2 linked regions of the Homo sapiens genome follow. The protein of the gene in region 2 interacts with the protein of the main gene of each other region in a biochemical or structural test. Each region holds a gene or a part of one and is shown on either strand. Other genes may lie near its edges.

Region 1 (3,206 bases), on a different chromosome or scaffold from region 2:
TTAAGTAGAAATACATACAGTTCAGAAGTTTCTAGAGTTAGGGGAGGGCAGGCGCGGTGGCTCATGCCTGTAATCCCAGAACTTTGAGAGGCCGAGGTGGGTGGATCACTTTTGGTGAGGAGTTTGAGATCAGCCTGGCCAACACGGTAAAACCCCGTCTCTACTAAAAATACAAAAATTAGCTGGGTGTGGTGGCGGGTGCCTGTAATCCCAGCTACTCATGAAGCTGGGATAGGGGAATCACTTGAACCCGGGAAGCGGAGATTGTAGTGAGCTGAGATCGCACCACTGCACTCCAGACTGGGCGAAAGAGCAAGACTCCATCTCAAAAAAAAAAAAAAAAAAAAAAGAGGAAAAAAAAGAATTAAGGGGGCATATGATTGGAGGTGAGGAGACAAAGGAAGAACAGTCCTAGAGGCCTTGCTATGAAGTCTGAAACTTCATCCTGTAGGTATCCCATACCAATGAGGGAAAAACATTAACATATAAAGGCTGGGTCCTGCAAGACACCAAATAAACCACTGTGATTTCAGCTCAGCAGCTCATGTGATACCAATCAGAACCAGACAACATACCTCAGCCCTCACTCCCCTCTCCTCAAAATACACCTTGACTGGTTGTTTCAGAAACATGGACAAACTCAGGATCCCTCAGAGACAAACAGCATATAATGTGGATGACAAAACTGTGTACATCAAACTCTCAGCTCTAGTCCCAACTGAAGCTAATACATTATACAGCTGTGAGAGCAGACATTTCAAAATGGGGGTCAGGAAACTGGATTTTGGCAACTACTATCTTAAAAAGCCAGAGTGCAAATAAATTACACTCCACATTTATATCCTATCTGATTTGAGGCTAAGTGCTACACATTCCTTCAAATATGTTGGGAAAATAAATTAGCATCTAATTAAATTTCTTTAATACAATATATTTGCTAAATCTAGTATTTAATACTCAAGAATTATAAGGGAAGGACAAAAAAAAAAAAGAAAACAAAAAATAAAGAAAAAAAGCCCTATATAGATGAGTCCAAAGTGTAATTTATATGGAAGAACTTACCTTTGGAGAAAAATCTGTCTTGTCGTATACACAAACATTTGTATTTATTATTTCAAAGTCCACTCAAACAAAAGTTTAACATGCAAGGTTAGAGGTAAAATTAAGCTCACTATCTGTATTAGGCATCATTTTAAATGAAGGTAAACTAAAATAATTCAAATTAGTTTCCATCATTCAGAGTGCAACACCACCCCACCCCAAAAAAACCCGCAGCAAGAGAACAGGGTTATATTATGAAAGGAAGCCCTCAAGCTCAGTAAAATGTCATCTTTGTGCTCACTCTGGAATGGCTGACAGTGGTAGCTGCAGAACCATCTCTACAATGTATTAAATACATAATGCAGAAGTGTGGGAGATTTGGGAGCCACATTTAAACCCGCATAGCAGCAGATGAGGACAGACCATTTTTTTAACCCACTCCAACAGTTAGAAGCTGATAATGTGACATGTTCTTCTTAATGTTCCTACATGGTAGTCTTCTGCCAAAGTAATTAGCGCCTGCCCATTATTTCAAAAATTTCAATGACATAATTGACTGGCAAACCTTGGTCCATATCAGAAAAGTTTCTTACAATCCATGATGTAATTTCTTGATGCTCATTCATTTATTTCAATTGTTAATTTCTACTTTTTCTTGAGAAAAACATCTCTTAAAATAATCTGTAGCCATCAAATTGCCTGGACTTCAATAATGCATAGAGAAATTTTTACCAAACTTCTGCTTCCTGAATTACATAAAATGCTTATTTTAGCAACATTTTAGCCATATATACATTATAAACATTAAGTTTAAATAACATTTACTGATAATTTCCTTCAAAATACAATGAAAGGTACAGCAAGGGTGAAAATTTCACCTCAGTAGGACAGAAATTTTTTCTCTTGTGAGAAATAACCACATGAAATTGTCAACATTTGACTATTTTTGACCTACAACTAAAGAAAAAAATATGTATTAAAAAAAAAAAAAAGCCTGGCAATGTCATTGGCTAATCAGTTTTCCTCTAAAAATGACTTTCTGTAAAGTACTAAGTGAGAACGAGAAAAATATATTGTCTCAGACTAATACAAATATGTACCAACCTGCCCATATGTGAATTTGAATATAATTTTCTGCCATCAAATTTAACTTTAAAAATCTTACGGTCTACTTAGAAATAAAAATCTGACAAGTTAATGATTTCTAATGTTATCAGCACTTCCTATATCACTTGTAACTATTAAACATTCCTGTACTGTAGGCTCTTATTCATGATCAGTTTGTAAGCACACTCTCAATAGTCAAAAAACACAACAACAGCACTGGGTTCCATGTATTAAAGTGATTTCCCTAACATGATGTTTGCCAACAGCAGCAGTGTTAACTCTGACAGAGTAACAACAAATTGTAAAAGGGCTGTAAATCTCTATAAAGAGTGATCTACCTCTTCCTAACCAGGTAACGGGACTTCTGAAGATACATAACTGCTACCAAGTACAATGTCATAGACAAGAACATGGACTCTGGAGCCCAACTGCCTGGGTTCAAATCTCAGCTCTCTGACTAACCAGCCGTGGGAACTCGGTCAAGTTACATAACCCTTATGTGTCTCAGTTTTCTCATATGTAAAACATTCCTACAACTTTCACTATGAAGATTAAACACAGATTAAGTGGTCAGAATCATGCCTGAGACACAGTGATTTTTATGTAAGTGTTCCCAATACCATCTTTATCTGCACAATAAGGTAGGCAGTGAGAAAAGCAGAAATCTTCCAGGCCCTATTACAGTCAGTCAGTTGGGAAAGAGAAGAAGAGTTCTCAACCACCAGTCAGGAGAATTTAGTTCTAATCACAATTAACCTTTGTTATCAGAGTTTTAGGGGCTTGCATGATTTTATTAGAATATGCTGGAAGCATTTCATGAAAATTCAGATATGAACAGTTACAAACTTACATTTGAAAATTAGAATCATTCTCACATACACACACAGACACACACACATATATATATAATATACATACATATATATGGTCTTCTGGCTTTTAATGAAATTTCAAGTTATATTCAAGAAATTGATCTCAAATCTTTTGAGAACCAATAATGATATTGTAGTTGCATACCATACAAATATCATAGTAGGTTATATTTTTCTATTTTGCAA
Region 2 (2,393 bases):
AGCGCTGCCCTCTTGGAGGGTGATGAGTCGGAAACAAAGTCTTCTCTCCCCTCCTCGGAGACATCACATCACTTAAACAAGAAAGAGGCGGCGGACATCCACACCAGTCCTGAAGGAGACTCCTGTGGAGCCGGGCCTGGCCCCCTAGGCCATGTCTCCACGTGGAGGGGGCGGGGAGCCTGACCTTCCGCCCTGAGCTGGTCTCCTGTGGCCCAAGGCCCGGCCTCCCGCTCTGTCCTGCCATGGAGAAAACGTCTCCGTTGCCTGGGCCCTCCATGCCAGTTGCTGAGTGGCCTACGTTGGAAGAGAAGGACAAGTCCCCAGCCCTGAGCTCCGCCAGCGTGGGTGGCAGCCTGGGGAAGAGGAGGCCTGGCCCTCCAGCTGTGGTGGGTCTGGATTGGAGGCGCCAGAGGTTTTTGCTCGAGGGGCACCTGGGAGGTGGGCGTCAGGGCCCCACTGCGGCGGGAACATAGCTGCTGAGTGGCCGCAGTGCTTGGCAGGGCGAGGGCTGTCCCCACAGTCGATGTTCAGGCCAGATGTCCTGCACTGAGGCCCCCAAACCCAAGCTGAGGGCAGGAGGGTCCGCTTCCCACGTGGATGGAGGCAGAGTTGCTCGGGACCCCAGCCGTCCCCTCTGCAGGCCGATGGGGCCCCCGGGGCTCAGGTCCCCAGAGGCCACCGCGAACAGCCTGGCTTCTTCCTCAGGACACAGGCAGGCACAGCAGAGAACCAAAGAGTGCAGTGGGCAGGGGCTCTTCTCCCTCTGGTTGGTTTGTTTGTGTCTTTTTTGTTCTTTTCCTAAAACGGCACACACGTGCTTCCGTCTCTGTGCCAAATAAGGACTCAAATGCGATTGGCCGCTCGGGAGGGTGGGTCTCACAGGGGCAGGCTGCCGACCGGGGTGCCGGGGCCCTGGGAGGCTTGTCGGGGAGGGGCCCGGCCGTCGGCATCCGTGCAGGGGGAGGACGAGGTCCGGTGGGGCGGCGAGGCGGGCATCTCCCGAGCTCTGGGCCTCAGCGGGGTGGGCAGCGCCTTCGGGGGCAGCCGGAGCAGAAGTGGAGCTCGGCTCTGGGTCGGGGGCTGCATAGAAATTACTGCAAGAGCAAGAGGACAGGTGAAGGTGGGCGGGGCGAGGGCCCACCCCAGGCCCCCTGCCAGGGACTGGCTTCCTTGGGCCAACACAGGCCCTGAGACACTTAGCCCACGGCCACCTCAGAGCCAGAGAGCCCAGGGTGGAGCTCTGGGCCACCTGTGCCCTCCCGCCCCGGGCCTCAGTCCCTGCCTATCCCAGTAGCTGGGGACCACGCTCAGTAGAACCTTGGAGCCCACGGGACCGGCGGGTGCACCTGGGCTGCACTTACTGTGTCGCTCTCGCCGTCGGAGGCCGGGGGGGCCTGGGCGCTATAGTGGAGCGGGGAGTACACCCAGCTCCTCTCATCGGTGGGCTGGCAGGTGGGCGCGCGTGCAGGAGGGCGCGGAAGAGCAGGGTGCGAGGAGGTGCAAGAGAGGCAGAGGGAGGAAGGAAGAGACAGGAGAACATAAAAGAGGCGAATCCCCCATGGAAGACGAGGGGTGGCTCAGCCCAGCTGCCCTCTCTGACCCGGTGGACTTGCTCCCAACCTGGACGGGCCTGGGGCCTCAGCTCAGCTTGGCGGGGCGGGGCACGGCGGGCGGCAGAAAGCAGTTAGTTCAGTCGAGGCAGGGCCTGAGATAGCAGGTGACAGAGCCGGCGGAAGCGGGTGGGGGTCGCGACCTGGAGCACCGAGTGTTCCTCCTCCTCCTCCTCCTCCACAGCCCGGCCCCACCACAGCCCCCAATCCTGCCTGTGCCACGGGCACCAGCGCACAGGCTCCTGGAAGCTCTCTATGGGGGTCCTGGGAGGTCGGGGTGCCGGACCTACTTCCCAACCCAGAAGCCTTTTGGGACCTGAATATATGGCTGCCTGCGGGCAGGGCCAGTCCCCTCTGCCAGCACAGACGTGCTAGGAGAGACTGAGGCTCGGACCACCCACCCTGCAAGAGCCAGGAGACGCCTTCCTGAGCAGCAGGGCAGAGTGAGGGCCAAGTTCAGGGCTAGGCACAGGCAGGGCCGTGTGCAGGGACACGGACAGCTCTTCCCAGCTGTGCCTGCGTGAGGGGTCCCAGGTCTGGGTGGGATCTGGGGAGGGAGGGAGGGTGCGTTCCTCCAACACCTCCGTCCCGCCTCCTGAGGAGCCCCCACCCCCTCAAGCTCCCCCTGCTTCTCCTGCCCCTAGGCTGCTCTGCTTTCTCAGGGCTCCAGCCTGGCCGCCCTGTCTTCCTTGTTGTGTCCTCCTCTCTCTCGGGCCTCTGTCACCAACCCAGCCTTCAACGCCCCTCCCGGCACAGATGACCTGCGAATTTCCACCAGGCCTG

Evidence for each region. The genes of interacting proteins can lie anywhere in the genome.
Region 1: the proteins of PIP5K1C (region 2) and ITGB1 form a complex in vitro, tested with the Homo sapiens proteins (one study listed by BioGRID).

What each region holds. Positions count from the first base shown.
Region 1 is NC_000010.11:32,903,025-32,906,230, forward strand, and holds part of ITGB1 (integrin beta-1 isoform 1A precursor), read right to left. Parts: intron 1-3,206.
Region 2 is NC_000019.10:3,632,076-3,634,468, forward strand, and holds part of PIP5K1C (phosphatidylinositol 4-phosphate 5-kinase type-1 gamma), read right to left. Parts: intron 1,706-2,393; coding exon of another isoform or gene 1,685-1,705; exon of another isoform or gene 1,621-1,684; intron 1,446-1,620; coding exon 1,362-1,445; intron 1,095-1,361; coding exon 1,092-1,094; 3' UTR 1-1,091. UniProt on the Homo sapiens protein: Catalyzes the phosphorylation of phosphatidylinositol 4-phosphate (PtdIns(4)P/PI4P) to form phosphatidylinositol 4,5-bisphosphate (PtdIns(4,5)P2/PIP2), a lipid second messenger that regulates several cellular processes such as signal transduction, vesicle trafficking, actin cytoskeleton dynamics, cell adhesion, and cell motility.